Linked DNA regions of Homo sapiens: region 1 is linked to region 2. The links come from fine-mapping of genetic effects on gene expression. A gene starts in region 2. The other region holds a variant in brackets. All regions are shown on one strand. Distances are from middle to middle.

Region 1 (8,320 bases), 31 kb before region 2:
TTACAATTTGGTTAAAATCTCTCAAATACTTTAAATTTACCTTATAAATGTAATCTCTTCATTTTCTTTTTAAGTACTTCAGGGTTTTTGTTTGTTTTGTTTTGTTTGAGACGGAGTCTCCGCTCTGTTGCCCAAGAGTGCAGTGGCACGATCTCGCTCATTGCAACCTCCAACTCCTGAGTTCAAGGGATTCTCCCACCTCAGCCTCCGGAGTAGCTGGGATTACTGGCGCCTGCCACCACGCCGGCTGATTTTGTATTTTTAGTAGAGATGGAGTTCCACCATGTTGGCCAGGCTGGTCTCCAACTCCTGACCTCAAGTGATCTACCTGTCTCGGCCTCCCAAAATGCTGGGATTACAGGCATGAGCCACCGCGCGCAGCCTCAAGTACTTCAGGGTTTAATATAACAAACTGTTTCCAAATACTGACTGCAGTTCTGCTAAATTAAACCGATTAATTAATGAGGCTGAAATATTCTCCACTGTCCAAGACTAGACATAAATATAGTCGGATTTCAACTCTAAATCAGCAGTCAGCAACTGCTCAATTGCACACTGCGTTACAAGAGTATTACTCTACCGGAATTTTTATTTTTGAGACGGAGTCTCGCTCTGTCGCCAGGCTGGAGTGCAGTGGCGTGATCTTGGCTCACTGCAACCTCCGCCTCCCGGGGTTCAAGCAGTTCTCCTGCCTTAGCCTCCTGAGTAGCTGGGACTACAGGTGCGCACCACCACGCCCGGCTACTTTTTTTGTATTTTTAGTAGAGATGGGGTTTCACCATGTTGGCCAGGCTAGTCTCGAACTCTGACCTCAGGTGATCTGCCCACCTCAGCCTCCCAAAGTGCTGGAATTACAGGCATGAGCCATGGCACCCAGCCTCTACTGGAATTTTTTAAACAAGCTACTGAAAATACCAAACATGCTCAAATTCTAAGTACAAAAATATTGCCATGGTTCTGATGTTCTTAAACCACCTAATACCCTAACGCCTAGCTGTAAATATTTTTGGGCATGAGAGAGTGGCCCCTCCGTGGAAGACAGAAGCCTCCCAGGTGGTTTCTGGGCTGAGTGGGGGCAGTCAGGGCCTCCTGCTAGGTCAATGCCCCCAAGCCCCCTCCTCACCAAGCCGGTCCCTCACACCCAGAGGGGGCAGCCTGGGTCTTGCTGCCTTTCTCCCTGGGATACAGAATTGATGAAACCCTAAATGTCAATGATAAAGATTTTTGTACTTTAAGGAAGCTGCATTCCCTCATGGTCCTAGGAGCACAAAACCACAATAAAACCCTGTGGAATCTGAATTTCTCTCCCAGGCGTCTGATGGGCAGGTGTCCCCAGAGAGAACAGTCTGGTGACACAGCAAATGCAGGTGGGGCTGCTGGCTACAGAGGGAGGCTGGGGCTCGGGAGGGTGGGGTCAGGGAACATCCTAGGAGGGGCAATTTGAACAGAGACCAGAGGGTGAGAAGAGAGGAGCCCTGCAGATCCAGGCTGGGGTGGAGGGGCCGGAGAGGGGCCTGGACTCCCAGCACATTCACCCCAATACCACGTGGTACCCCAGCACTGCCCACACCCCAACATCCCCCGGCACCCAGCACACTCACCCCAACACCCCCCAGCACCCAACACTACCCACACCCCAACACCCCCCAGCACCCCAGCACTGCCCCCACCCCAACACCCCCCAGCACCCAGCACACTCACCCCAGCACTGCCCACGCCCCACACACTCCCTGGCTCCCATGGGCTGGGCACCGTTTCTCTTTTCAGGCCTTATTATGTATTCACTTCCTCCAGAAAACCCCCGGCCTCAGGGCAGGGCAGGGCACCCCTCATCTCCCCAGTGCCCTGCGAACCTGTGAAGTGGGCGCCTGATGCAGCATCAGTTGATGAGCAAGAGGAGGGTTGTCAGCTATGCTGTCATCCCAGGCAGCAGCCACGAGAATGCAGGGGCACGAGAAGCAACTACAGGACCCAGAGTTCAGGGAACCCAGAGTGTGGGGCCATGTGTGGTTGTGGGGATTGGAGACACAGGGCCCTGTGCAACCTGGGCCCGGAGCAAGACAAAGACAACAGCAGCAGATGCTGGAGCCCCAAGGCAGGAAGGACAGGACAGCCTCAAGGCAGGAAAGATGGCTCTGGGAGCTGTGGCTGTAACTTGCTTTATGTGTCCAGCATCTCCGTGAGCATCTGGTGTCTCAGCTCAAGTCAACCCTGGCCAGACTCCAATAACAGACACAAGAACTGAGAAGGTGGCCCTGGTTACCAAAAACCAGAGGACCCTCATTAACATCCCCAAATTTCAAGCCAGACTGAAATCTGTCAGAAGAAATGAGGGTCCCAGCCTACCCCCGACACGGGTGGAACAGAGTAGGCTGGGCCCAGCTAGAGCCTGGGCCTGGGCTGCTGCACCTGCGGGGCCCACAGACTGAGGAGGCGGTCGGCCTCCCTCCATCCCGACAGCAGAGCCCCGTGCGTCGTGGAGTAAAACGTGCGATGTGTGGCTTCCCCCGCAAACAGGATCTGGAGCTGCAAAGAAGAGCCAGGGTTAGAATGGGGATGCAATTCAGACAGCAGGGTCTGGGCAAGGAAACACAGAAAATGGCTCACAAGCATCCACCAAGAAGCAGGAAAACAGCTCACACACCTCCACCAACGGACGAGAAAAGGGCTCACGTGTACCCACCAATAGCCAGGAAAACAGCTCACACACATCCACCAACGGGCAGGAAAACAGCTCACATGTATCCATCAACAGCCAGGAAAACGGCTCACACGCATCCACCAACGGGCGGGAAAACGGCTCACACGCATCCACCAACGGGCGGGAAAACGGCTCACACGCATCCACCAACGGGTGGGAAGACGGCTCACACGCATCCACCAATGGGTGGGAAAGGAAGCCACTGCACCCCGCAGCTCAGGTGTGAACAGCTTTTAGAGAAAACAAGGGGTGTAAACACTGAATAGTGATCTGGCCTCAACTCCTGGATCACATATGGGGAGGGTGGGGGAGGGATCTGGGAGTCGGGTGGGCAGAGGAAGAAAGCTACAGCCTTATCTGATGTAATGAGAAGTCAATTAGTAACACCTGAAACTGAAAACTCAAGAAGCAACATTTCCAAGCAGGTTCACTGAAGAGAGACCATGAGCTGATTGGAAAACTGAACAGTGACTAAATATTGGATCATATTGAGGAATGATTATTAATTTTTAAGTGGGTAAATGGTATCATAGTTATATGGTTTTATTTTTATGTTTTCTGAGACAGAGTCTTGCTCTGACACCCAGGCTGGAGTCCAGTGGTGCAGTCATAGCTTACTCCAGCCTCAACTTCCTGGGCCCAAGCCTGAGCAGCTGGGACTACAGGTGCATGCTACCATGCCTGGCTACTTGTGTGTGTGTGTGTGTGTGTGTGTGTGTGTGTGTGGAGACCGACTCTCACTATGTTGCCCAGGCTGGTCTCGAACTCTTGGCCTCAGCAAACCTCCTGCCTAGGCCTCCCAAAGCACTAGGATTACAGGTGTGAGCCACTGCCCTCAGCATCATAGTTAAGTATTTTACAAGGATGTCTTTATCTTTTAGAAACAGGCACCAAAATATCCTGAGGTGAGACAATGTCCTGTGTGAGTCATGCTTAATAAAAAAGGGCGGGGGTGGGCGGGGAGAAGCTTGGCTTAGGGGAAGCCTGGTGGGCACTGAAAGGTTCTCCCTACTTTAGTATGTTTGACATTTTGCACAGGAAATGTATCTCAAAACGTGGTAGCAGAAACATGTTTTTAGAGATGCAGTAAACTTAGCGATGAGAATCAGCTGGGAGCACCGTCTGAGAAGGGCAAAAGGGGCTCCACCTGCCATTTTGGTTTTATTTTCTTTTGTTAGCACTGCAGAATTCTCTGACTTTTTAAGCTGTGTGTGTATAATTCTCACAAAAACAGTACATTTAAAAATTATTCTTAGTTTCAAAAAGAAAATGGCTTCCGAGTCTGGGATCCCAGCCCACCCGCCACTGGCTGGTGCTCCTGCAGCGCCCAGACTCGGCGGGGGCCTCTGCAGCGGGACCCACGCCCCCCGACTGGGGCACGCCACATACCTGGGCGCCGGCGCCGTCTGCAGGGAGGGGCTGAGCCAGCAGGTCCAGGTCGCCCCCAGTACTGCCCACGGCCACGTAGCTGTAGGACCCCCTAGTGTACGGGGCGCTGTGCCAGCGAGACCGCAGGACGCTCTTGGGCGCGGGGAGCCGTGGGTTTCCTGAGCCACAGAGACACTGCATGTTAACCGAGAACTCTCACCCACAGGTCTGCAACTGTTTTTGTCATTTTTAAAGATTGAGCAGTTTAACGTGAAAGATGCTATGCAGGAAGAAAAGTGAGCAGCAGAGTGTGTCAGGAGAGGCTCTTCCTGCCGCCTCTGACCCGAGAGCAGTGGGCTGGGACCCGGGGGCCTCTGACCCGACAGCAGCGGGCC[G/A]GGACCCGGGAGCTGTGACAGCAGCAGCTACTGTTTCCGAGCCTTGGGTTCCTCCTCTGTAAAAATCTGATCAAGGACAACGGCATTTATTTTGGTGGCAGAAGTAGGAAGTGTTTGCAAAGTCATTTCAGTTCCTCGGAGGTAAGAACTGTTACTGACCCCACTAACATGAGGAAGGATGGTCCCTGGAGATGTACAGAGTCAGCCAAATTTAGTTTTTCTCTGTTCTGCAAAGTCTAGTTTCTGTTTAGAGATCAACCAGTAACGAGCAGAGGCAGGAACCAGCGTGTGTGGTGAGTACCTACCTGTCACTCTCCGGAGCACTTGGGTGAGACACAGAAGTACTTCTTCATCCGACAGAGTCTCCATGAACTCAGACTCAAGTCCGGCAATGAACCCACAGAGAACGTGGACAGACCTGCATGGAGAAAGAGAGCCCTGGGATGACCAGACCTGCATGGAGAAAGAGAGCCCTGGGATGACCAGACCTGCATGGAGAAAGAGAGCCCTGGGATGACCAGACCTGCATGGAGAAAGAGAGCCCCGGGATGACAGTGTCCAGCCCAGCTCTCCGCCCGCGTTTCTCAGCAAGGAACCACTGATGGAGCAGGGGCCCCAGAGGCACAAAGAGCCACCCCACAGAGCGTCCCTCAGGCAGCAGTTCGCAGAGTGTGGGCGGCAAAGTCCTGGGGGTCCGAAGGCCCTGCCAGGGACCCTCAAGGTCACAGCCATCTTCAGACGCTAAGACAGCATTTGCTGTTTCCACCACGCCGACATTTGCACCTGAGCAAGAGCCAGGGCAGGTAAACCGTCCCTTAGCAGAATCAGGCAGCAACAGGATCCACATGCGCCTACAGGCGTTCCCACCACTGCACATGAGGGTTACAAAATGCTGCTTTTTGCAGCCGTCAAAGAACGAGATCATGTCCTTTGCAGGGACATGGATGGAGCTGGAGGCCATTATCCTTAGCAAACTAACACAGGAACAGAAAAGCAGACAGCACATGTTTTCCCTTTCAAGTGGGAGCTAAATGATGAGAACACACACTGGGGCCTATGGGAGAGTGGAGGATGGGAGGAGGGAGAGGAGCAGGAAAAATAACTAATGGGTACTAGGTTTAATTCCTGGGTGATAGAACTAATCTGTACAACAAGCCCCCATGATACACGGTTAGCTACATAACAAACCTGCACGTATATCCCTGCCTCTGAATATAAAAATTAAAATATATATATTAAAAAATAAATAAAAATGCTGCTTTCACTTGAGAATGTCCTTGATCAAAGGCAGTAAAAGTTACTAATTTTATTAAATCTTGATCCTCGAGTTCATGTCTTTTTAATAATCTGCGTGGAGGGCCAGGCACAGTGGCTCAGGCCTGTAATCCCAGCACTTTGGGAGGCCAAGGCGGGCGGATCACGAGGTCAGGAGTTCGAGACCAGCCTGGTCAATATGGTAAAGCCCTGTCTAATAAAAATACAAAAATTAGCCAGGCGTGGTGGCGGGCACCTGTAGTCCCAGCTACTCGGCAGGTTGAGGCAGGAGAATGGCATGAACCCGGGAGGTGGAGGTTGCGGTGAGCCAAGATCGCGCCACTGCTCTCCAGCCTGGGCGACAGAGTAAGACTCCATCTCAAAAAATAATAATAATCTGCGTGGAGAAGCGGGATCCGCATAGAACACTCCTGCTGCGCGTGGTGCACGGTGGCCGTGGAGGACTCACCTAGCACACGCTATTCCAGGCGGGGCTGGTGCGTCTTTCACAGACAGGCTCAGAACTCAGGAGAGCACCAGTCAGACAAATCATGGTGTGGTATTTGGTGACATTTTCTTGAAAATGAGCAAAGTGTCTCTATCACAGGAAAACAACTAACAAATAGTATTTATAGACAATGACAAAGTTTAAGCTCTCAAGCAAAAACTGCAATTTTAGAAAAGCTTGTTTCTGCCACCAACAGCATAACAGCTTCCCAATCCTGAAAGACTTTTCTGAGATCAGTGGTATGTTAATAAATTTGATTTTTTATATTGTATAATGAAATGTATCAACATTTGGAAGACTACATGAACCAATATATATATATTTTATTTTTTTAAGACATGGCCTCCCTCTGTTGCCCAGGCTGGAGTTCAGTGGCTTGATCACAGCTCACTGCAACCTCCGCCTCCTGGGCTCAAGCAATCCTCCCACCTCAGCCTCCCAGTAGCTGGGACCACAGGCACGCACCACCACATCTGGCTAGCTTTTTGTATTTTTGGTAGAGACTGGGTCTTGCTATGTTGCCCAGGCTGGTCTCGAACTCCTGAGTTCAAGCCATCTGCACACCTTGGCCTCCCAAAGTGCTGGAATTACCGGCATGAGCCACCAAGCCCAGCCTAGTATTTTCCAATGACTAAAGCCATGGATAGATAAAAGATCCATTTAAAGTGCAAGACAGACAAATAGATTTCAGTGTCACAGAAGACAAAAAATTCACTGGTGTGCTCTCCAATTTCATATTTGGCCAACCTTTAAGGAATTACTACTACATCTTGACTTTTGAGGTAGTATCAAAGAATACCCACAATCATTTCAAAAGCTATTTAAATATCACTCCTTTGGCCGGGCGCAGTAGCTCACGCCTGTAATCCCAATACTTTGGGAGGCCAAGGTGGGCAGATCACTTGAGGTCAGGAGTTCGAGACCAGCCTGACCAACATGGAGAAACCCCATCTCTGCTAAAAATACTAAATTAGCCGGGTGTGGTGGTGGGCACCTGTAATCCCAGCTACTCAGGAGGCTGAGGCAGGAGAATTGCTTGAACCCGGGAGGCGGAGGTTGCAGTGAACCGAGATCGAGCTATTACACTCCAGCCTGGGCGACAAAAGCAAAACTCCATCTCATAAATAAACAAATATCACTCCTTCTTCCAACCACATATCCATGTAGATCCACATTTTCTTCCTATGTTTCAACCAAAATAAAACATCACCACAGAATGAATGCAGAGGAGGCCTGAGAACCCAGATGTCTTCTATTAAGTGTAACACTGAAGAGTTTTGCAGAAAAGGCCGGGCGTGGTGGCTCACACCTGTAATCCCAGCACTTTGGGAGGCCAAGGTGGGCGGATCACTTGAGGCCAGGAGTTCGAGACCAGCCTGGCCAACATGGCAAAACCCTGTCTCTACTAAAACTACAAAAATTAGCTGGGCATGGTGGCACACACCTATAATCCCAGCTACTCGGGAGGCTGAGGCAGGAAAATCGCTTGAACCCAAGAGGCAGAGGTTGCAGTGAGCTGAGATCACGCCACTGCATTCCATGCATTCCAGCCTGGGTGACAGAGAGACCTTGTCTCAAAAAAAAAAAAAAAAAGTTTTGCAGAAAAGACAAAACTGCTGCCACCCTTCATTAAATTTTAAGAAAATATTCATTTAAAAATGTTATTTATGCTAACATAGAATAGGTTTGTTACTATCATCTCAAATAATAATTTAATTTATCATGTGGTGACTGGGTGCGGTGGCTCATGCCTGTAATCCCAGCACTTTGGGAGGCCGAGGCGGGCGGATCACGAGGTCAGGAGATCGAGACCATCCTGGCTAACACGGTGAAACCCTGTCTCTACTAAAAATACAAACAATTAGCCGGGCGTGGTGGTGGGTGCCTGTAGTTCCAGCTACTCAGGAGGCTGAGGCAGGAGAATGGCGTGAACCCAGGAGGTGGGGCTTGCAGTGAGCCAAGATTGCACCACTGCACTCCAGTCTGGGGGACAGAGCGAGACTCCATCTCAAAAACAAAAAAATATTTTATTTATCATGGGGTAAATTTACAGATGTGACTCACATAAACAAAAGCTCTTTGAGATCCCCAACC
Region 2 (8,320 bases):
CACCCAGCCTGTGAGGGTCCTGACTGGAGCACCTTCTAAATCTAAGATTCTGCTGAGGAGCCCCCGCTGGTCCCTCTGGGCATGCTGTGCTCGGACGGAAAGCGGGGCCTGCGGGTCCTTGTGTCCCTGCCGCTGAAGAATGGGGCTGCTCTGAGGGAAACGCTGTCTGCTGCCTTCATACAGATGCTGATTAAAGTGATAGCGATTCAGATTACACCACGCCTTGTAGTCATGTCTGCAATGAGCATTCTGTCATGTTAGTTGTTTTTTTAAACTTTTTTGTTTTTTCACTGTAAGGAACAACATTCAAACAAAACAAGTTTGTATAGTCAGTTGCCTCACATCATACTTCCAGGGTAGCCACTGTGAACAGCTGGGCTTGTGACTTCCTAGAGTTCTGTGCACGCACCCACACACCCCTGCACACGGGCACAGGCATGGTCTATGGTTTTCTTCCACGCCCACTCACGTCGAGCCCTTTCCTCACGAGAGCCCACCCTATTTTCTTCCTACTTCTGTCATAAGGAGCTCTCTGTTCAGTTTACTGCATTCTTCTCTACTGTGGGAACACACGACGTCAACTTGATCATCTTAACCACTGTGTTTTAGAGACGGGCTGGAGTGCGTGGCTCAGTCACAGCTCACTGCAGCTTGAATCTCCTGGGCTCAAGTGATCCTCCCCCCCTCCCAAGTAGCTGGGACCACAGGGGCGCACTCCCACACCCAGCTGACTGTTTAAATTTACCTTTTGTAGAGACGGGGTTTCCCCGTGTTGCCCAGGCTGGTCTGAACCATTTCAAATGCACATTTCAGCGGCATTAAGTACGTTCTCGTTGTGCAGCCATGACTATCCAAGAAAGCTTTCATTTTCCCAAACGGAAACTGTCCCCGTTAAACAACAACCCCTTTTCTGCTTCCCTCCAGCTCCTGGCACCCACGCTTCTACTTCCTGTCTCTATGGAGGGACCTCCATTTATCCCTTTGGGTCAGGCTCATTTCACTCAGCCCCACCCCAAATCCCTGGGTTGAAATCCTAACCCCTACCGTGACTGCATTAGGAGGGGGGACTTTGGGCAATGACTAGTCACAAGGGCAGAGCTCTTCGAGTGGGTTTAGTGTCCTAGGAGAGAGAGGGTGGAGCTCCTCCAGTGGGATTAGTGCCCTATGAGGGGGCGGAGCTCCTCCAGTGGGATTAGTGCCCTATGAGGGCAGAGCTCTTCAAGTGGGATTAGTGCCCTATGAGGGGGCAGAGCTCTTTGGGATTAGTGCCCTGTGAGAGGGCGGAGCTCTTTGAGTGGGATTAGTGCCCTATGAGAGGGCGGAGCTCCTTCAGTGGGATTAATGCCCTAAGAGAAGGCAGAGCTCTTCCAGTGGGATTAGTGCCCTATGAGAGGATGGAGCTCTTCCAGTGAGATTAGTGCCCTATGAGAGGGCGGAGCTCCTCCAGTGGGATTACTGCCCTATGAGAAGATGGAGCTCTTTGAGTGGGATTAGTGCCCTATGAGAGGGCGGAGCTCCTCCAGTGGGATTAGTGCCCTATGAGGGGGCGGAGCTCCTCCAGTGGGATTACTGCCCTTAGGAGAGCCCTGAGGGCACTCTTTCACCCCTCCCACAATGTGAGTGCTCTGTGGGAAGGTGCTGTCTGTAAACCAGGGTGGGCCTCATCACACACCGAACCTGCCTGGAGCCTTGGCCTCCAGAACTGTGGAAAGTCAGTGTTTATCAGCCACCCAGACCATGCCACTGCATCACAGCAGCCCAAGCTAAGGCACATACTGTCCAGAAGGTTTGTGCCTGTTGTGGCATGTTTCACCATTTGATTTTCTCACTAAATGACAGTCCTATAACATTCTTTTTAGTGGCCCTGACGTTTCATACTATGGACATGTCATCATGCCCTTGGTTCTAGGTATTTCCCCCAGGGAAGCCCACCTGCCCCCAGCTCAGTGCAGACGCCAGAGAGCGTTTGCCGGTGTCTCCTCCACTTGGCCCCGCAGCTCAGTGTGCGTAGGTGGTCTAGATTGTGGTCATGGCCTTGGGTTGGGTGGGCAGAGTGTGTGAGCCCCCACCGCTGAGGACTTGGGCTGAATACCAAGGACAGGTTCACCTGCATCAAGAAAGAAGAACAGTGATCTTTGCCGAGCTCTGGTTCCCTGAACGCTGCAGGTGCCACGCCCGTGTGTCCGGTTACATGTACACGCAAAGGGGACACACGCATGCTCTGCGACCGCTTGCCTCGGAGGCATTGGCTCTGCACTCCCACCCACCCCGTCTGTCCTCCTGTGTGCTGTGATTGGAGTCCACTAGTTCAGAGCCGGCTTCAGGGTGGAGCAGGTTTATCTCGCTTCTGCCAGGGCAGGTGGGAGTTCTCATGCAGTTGGCCTTAAAACAGGCGGGAGATGTTCTTTTCAGATAAGCCTCAGATAAGCCTTGGGATCTGGGACTGTTTGACAAATACTGAAACAGGTACAAAGGGAGTTTGATTCAGGTCCAACAGGGCATAACAGGCTCTTCCCTTGGGGTAGGGAATCTGGAACCTGCTCACTTACTGGAGTGGAGCACGTGGAGTCTGCGTGGGTCATGAACCACTGGCCCTGGAGCCTGGAGTAAATATGCAGAGATAGATAGGCACCAAATGTTCAAGTATGCAAGGGAGGAAGCCTGAACATTGAGAAAATCCACTCCGTTTAATTTTTCATGTGCACTGGGGTCAGCCTCCATAATCTGATTTCAAGCAATGGAACCTCAGAGATCCGTAGGGCTGGCTGCAGCCTCACGTTCATACCTGTGTCAGCCACACTTGGCTGGAAGCCAAGAAAGGGCCCAGCATGGAAGCCGCATCTCAGAGGGCTGCGTCTAGTTATCTGGTTCCAGAGCTTGGCAGGGACAGACACCCAACCCTTAGGCTGGGGAATGGACTTTGTCTTCATGCTGGCCCCAGGGAGCCTGGAGGGAGGGGTGCCACTGTCCGGGGCAGGGGAACCCCAGACTCAGAGTGAGGCTTCCACTCACTCCTGAGCTAGTTGACCTCTGGCCCCATTATTGTTTGGGGTTTGATTAGGTGTTTTTTCTTTGTTGGTTTTGTTTTTTTTTTTGAGACGGAGTCACTTTCTGTCACCCAGGCTGGAGAGCAGTGGAGTGATCTCGGCTCACTGCACCCTCCGCTTCCCGGGTTCAAGCAATTCTCGTGCCTCAGCCTCCCAAGTAGCTGGGATTACAGGCACCAGTCACCATGCCTGGCTAATTTTTGTATATTTTGAAGAGACGGGGTTTCACCATGTTGGCCAGGCTGGTCTCCAACCCCTGACCTCAAGTGATCCGCCCGCCTCGGCCTCCCAAAGTGCTGGGATCACAGGTGTGAGCCACCGCGCCCGGCCTGATTTGGTTTTGAAGCTGAAAACTTTCTTGCCCATCTCTATAAAATCCTCTTGCCCTTGTATATTTGGGTAAACGGTGACTCTCCACTTACAAGTTGGAGTAGAAACTGCCCAGGTACAGCTCTGAAACCCGGTGGCCTCGGTGCAAAGCCACCCCTCATTGGCAGGCCCTGGGCAGCCCCGGTCTTCTCTCTGCCCGAGTGGCCGGCCCAGGGCCAGCTGTTCAGGTGCTGCTGGGTGCCAGCCTGGGTGGCCCCACCAGGCTTTTCCGACGCAGCCCAGGCCACTTCCCATGGGGACAGGCTCCTAGGGCCAAGCAGTTCAACATGGAGACGTCTGTTTCCTCCTGGTTTTCTGACGCGGCTTTGTCATTTTTCACATACAGATTGATTTTCAGAACTTTTTAGGAGCCGCCAGGCCTCAGAGCATTTGTGTCACCTCAGGGCTGAGGGCCAGGGCCGCAGTGCTAGCCCCACAGCTGGTGTCCAGCTGGGAATCATGTGGAAGAAGGTGGTTCCGCGGAGGGAGGGCCTGGCCAGCCTGAGCTCAGCCAAAGGTCAGGATGCCGCCATCCTGGGCAGGGGGTTGCAGGCCGCTGACACCGGGGGATGATGGAGGACCCTTAGGTGTCCTGGCACTTCGCAGCTGAGCCTGGAAGCTGGGCCTGGCTGCCCTCCTGGACTCCCCCCAAGGGGGTCCGAAGTCCTGGCTCCCGTGTCCCTTGCTCCCGGTCCCTCAGGAGCGTGGGCTGAAGGCCTGGGTCCAGCTACCCACCATGGTGACCCCAGGGACCCGGTGCGCTCCGGGCATTCTGCCAGGCCTAAGGGCAGCACGAAGTGGTCAGAGGGCAGAGACCCTCATGAGGGGAGGCCGCGGCGGTTGAACCCCTTCGGCCTGAGGGAGCTCGGGGTGGGAGGCTCGGGTAGGGACACTGGGGAGCCCCCGGCCACAGCGCAAGGGCACCCGAGTCTCGGACCTGGCGAGGAGCCCGTGGGCTGGCTGGGTGTTGCCCCCACGCCACGACTCAGCCCGCACGTCCCCAGTTCCTGGGGCTCCCCGCCCTTCCTTGAGCCGCAAGCGGACCCCAGCCCGCCGAACCCTAGGCCCGGCCCGTCCCCAAGCCCCAAGCCCGGGACCCTAAAGCCCCGCCCTCCAATAAAGCCCCGCCCTCCCCGTAAAGCCCCGCCTCTGCCCCTAAGCCCCGCCCTCCCCGTAAGGCCCCCGCCTCTGCCCCCAAGCCCCGCCCTCCCCGTAAGGCCCCGCCCCGGCCCCCAAGCCCCGCCCCTAGGCCCCGCCCGCCCCGTCTGCCGGGCCATGGTGGCGCTGAAGGGTGTCCCCGCACTGCTGTCCCCCGAGCTGCTCTACGCGCTGGCGCGGATGGGGCACGGGGACGAGATCGGTGAGCGCAGCGGGCCGGGGCCTCGGGGAGCACCCCGGGACAGGCAGGAGGGCGAGGCTTGCACGGGGACCCCCGGGCCGGGAAGGGCCGCGTCCTGGGGTGTGGGCGTTGCTCGGGCCTCCCTGGCTTCCGGGCAGGAAGCCCCCTCCCCCGCATTCTTTAGGGAACTGAGACCTCGTGGGGCTCTGGGCGGAGCCGGCCCGAGCTTCTCCCGGAGTCCCTCCCCAGACGGCCCGAGAGCCCTCGCGTCTGGGCTGCCCCCGAGGGTTCGGCGCTTTTTCTTCTCCTGGGGCCTGGGGTCCCGGGGCAGGGGTTGGGTGGCCGGGGGCCTGGTCCGGGCATCGCGGGCAGCCGCGCGTCCTCTGGCCCCTGGGGAGGCGGCCGGGTCCGGGTCGGCCCCCTGGCCTGGTCAGCACCCGACAGCCTCGCGGGCAGCTGTTGACGCCTCTCTGCCTCCCAGGCAGGGACCTTGCCCTCCCCACCTCCCCGCGTGGCTTCCAGCCCTGCGGATCTGACTGCGGCCGGTCGGCGGTGGGGGCGCCCAACTGGCTGACCTGAGACCTCTTGTGACCCACGATCTGCCGCCATGACTGGGTGGGAGGACGGGCGGCGCCGACCCCGAGGGCAGGGATAGGTGCCGACACGGGCTGTCCTCCCGGCTGTTTAGTTCTTGCGGACTTGAACTTCCCGGCCTCCTCCATCTGCCAGTGTGGGCCCATGGAGATCCGTGCAGACGGTGAGCGAGCCCCAGGTCCCCCAGGGCAGGGCGGGCGGGTGAGCGGTGCTCCTGGCTCTGAGGCTCCTCTGTGGCCTGCCGTGGCCCCAAGTCCATGCTTGCAGTGTGAAGGGTGCAGACAGGCAGGCGGGCGGGCGGGCTGGAGACTGAGTGCTGCCTCCTCTGCCCTCCAGGCCTGGGCATCCCGCAGCTCCTGGAGGCCGTGCTGAAGCTGCTGCCCCTGGACACCTATGTGGAGAGTCCGGTGAGGGCTGAGTCGCCCCTGCACCCTGCTGCTCCGTGCCTCAGTTTCCCCTTTTGCGGGCTTCATAGGGCCCACCTGCCTTGGAGTGGGGGGAAGCCATGTGTCCCCAAAGGGGCCCTGACCCTCACCAGGGGAGTCCCGAATGGTCACCTGACCAGGAAGGCTGGCAGTGCCCAGGGCCCCAGAGCTGACCCCTCCCTCTAGGCTGCAGTCATGGAGCTGGTGCCCAGCGACAAGGAGAGGGGCCTGCAGACCCCAGTGTGGACGGAGTACGAGTCCATCCTACGCAGGGCCGGCTGTGTGGTAAGCCTGCAGCCCCAGTTGTGGGGAAAAGGCCAGGGACCCTCTGTCTCCTGGAGGCTCAGGAGGAGCCAAAGACAGAGGGTCCCAAGCTCTGTCCTCAAGTGGTCTCCCACCCATCACCCTGAGAACCCCGGACCACTGGCACTCCTTCACCAGCCAGGTGGAAGAGGTGCACCTGGGCAGTGTGGCCCCTCTTCCTCTGCCCCCGAGCTTTCCACCTGCCCTGCCCCGCCCAGGATCCTGACCTGCCAGGTGGGTTGTCACCCACCACAGCCTGTGAGTGGAGCCTGGGGGACTCAGGATGCCTGGCCTCCACCTCCTCAATCTCCCCTGGAGGGGTGCCCCCTGGTCCCAGGTCTCTCGCCCCATCCTGGCTATGGTTGGTCAGAGGCTTAGCTGGGTGCTGTGTCTCACTCAGCCCTCTCCACACCTTGCCCTGCAAGGGGACAGGCCCATTTTCCTGGGCAACCCACTGGCAGGTCTTGAGCAGGGCCTCCATAAGGGGGGCCAGGGGCTCTTGTCCTGGGCAGGGGACTCCCCCCAGGACAGCTGGCAGGGGCTCGACAGTCTACTGAGCTGTCTGGGTGGCCCCAGGTCAGGCAGAGACCCAAGCATGGCAGGTTCCTCGTCCACCATGTCCTGGGACCCCCTGTCCTAGGCCTTGGGAGCCAGAGGCTGAGTGACCGTGGGGCCCTTGCCGGGGGAGAGCCCAAGAAATGGAACCCCACTTCCTGGTGCCCTCCCTGCTTTGGGCCCTGGGGAGTCCAGGGCTGGCCCATGAGGGTTTCTTGGCAGGGTTCCCTCCAACCCTGCCATTTTGTCTTCCAGAGAGCCCTGGCAAAGATAGAGAGGTTTGAGTTTTATGAACGGGCTAAGAAGGCTTTTGCTGTTGTGGCAACGGGGTGAGTTCCAGCTGGCTCAGACCTGCCCCATCCCCACTGGGGCCTCAGGAGCTGCCCCCATCCCCACCGGGGGGCCTCAGGAGCTGCCCCTACCCTCTTCTCAGCTTCTGCCTGGCTGAGGCTAGACGTCCCACAGAGTGGAGAGACCAGGGAGGAATTTCGGGGGGGCAGGGCCCCCATTTGCCTGAGCATCAAGTGGGTGAAGGTGGACAGGGTCTGCTCTGTCCCCCAGATGCTGAAGCAGGGTCTCGGCACCCTGGCCCTGCAGCCCAGCTCAGTGCTGGGCTTGGCTCCTCTGCAGGGAGACGGCCCTCTACGGAAACCTCATCCTCAGGAAGGGGGTGCTTGCCCTCAACCCCCTGCTGTAGGCCTGGTGAAGACCACCTGGGCCGGAAGAGGAACTGGGGGCACCCTGAGCTCCAGTACCACCACTCACAACAGGCCTCCCAGTGGCAGCTCCCAGACCTGGGCCCTGGCCAGGGCTCTAGGGGCCGGCAGTCTTGGGGTGGGCCCTGCCAATTGGGACGAGTATCCCTGATTTGTGAAAATGATGGAAAAACGTTCAGTCTCAAGAGTCCAATTCCAGCTCTGTTCTCACGCAGGCTTGTTTGGTGCTGAGCTCAAGGGAGGCTGCTGGCTCCAGAGTGGCCCCCACGTACCCTTGACGAACCTTGAGTGGGAAATCAGGCCTGGGGCCCTGGGGACTGGGCGGGGTGCCTGGTGCCCTGGGGACACCAAGGGCTGGAGTGGGGGCAGTGGCTGCCCTGGAGGCCTTGAGAGGGGTGGGGACTTCTGCCATAGCCCCTGGGCTGTGGACACCAAGGGGGTTCTTCACCGGGGTCCATTCCTTCCACCCGCAGGAGGGCAGGTGGCAGGGGCTGGCCTGGACGCTTCGGGAGGAACTGTCGGCTGGAGAGGCCTCGGTGTGGGCCATGCCCTATGCCTGTGGCATAGGTGGCCTCCCGCTGAAAGCCTCACTTGCCCTGGCAGGCAGGGGAGGTAAAGGACACGAGGTCATTTGGAGTCCAGTGCCAGGCAGAGGTGGGATGCAGGGGGTTCCTGAAAGGGGGTGCCTGGGAGGCTTGCCCATGGGATGCTTGGACTGGTCCCCAAGGATGGGGAAGAATAACCACCAGCCACTGTCCGGACCCTCGTCTTGCTCCCCAGAACTTGCTGCAGTGACAGGTACAGGAAGAAGATGGGGCAGGGCTGGAGTTTGAGGGACCAAGGGCAGGAGTGGGGATGACAGGGGCTTCCCCCAGGGCCTGGGGCTGGTGTCCCCGGGGCTCGAGGGGGCAAGTCCCAGGGTTCCAGACCCCCACTCCAGACCGCAGGAGAACCTTGGGGGTGCAGGCAAGC

What was found. PIP is the estimated chance that this variant, and not a neighbour inherited with it, causes the effect.
Region 1: its variant is fine-mapped to the expression of FUOM in whole blood (INTERVAL, PIP above 0.99). The same link has a PIP of 0.9 or more in esophagus mucosa, lung, sun-exposed skin, tibial artery, unexposed skin and visceral fat.

What each region holds. Positions count from the first base shown.
Region 1 is chr10:133,385,518-133,393,837 of GRCh38, reverse strand. It overlaps PAOX (polyamine oxidase), which reads right to left. Exons shown (of 7, transcript NM_152911.4): 5 at 4,770-4,882; 6 at 4,091-4,248; 7 at 2,144-2,526. The coding sequence ends at 2,383. Among named protein-coding and RNA genes, the nearest start is that of MTG1, 4.5 kb to the left of the region's middle. RefSeq lists silencers at 3,950-4,029, 4,619-4,913, 5,170-5,327 and an enhancer at 5,080-5,209. The variant G/A (reference allele first, on the strand shown) is at 4,465.
Region 2 is chr10:133,354,379-133,362,698 of GRCh38, reverse strand. It overlaps FUOM (fucose mutarotase), which reads left to right and starts at 4,680. Exons shown (of 6, transcript NM_001098483.3): 1 at 4,680-4,776; 2 at 5,444-5,512; 3 at 5,686-5,756; 4 at 5,961-6,059; 5 at 6,888-6,961; 6 at 7,263-7,541. The coding sequence starts at 4,692. The coding sequence ends at 7,329. It overlaps ECHS1 (enoyl-CoA hydratase, short chain 1), which reads left to right. Exons shown (of 8, transcript NM_004092.4): 8 at 1-214. RefSeq lists silencers at 3,257-3,419, 4,452-4,531, 4,582-5,201 and enhancers at 5,352-5,451, 5,929-6,663.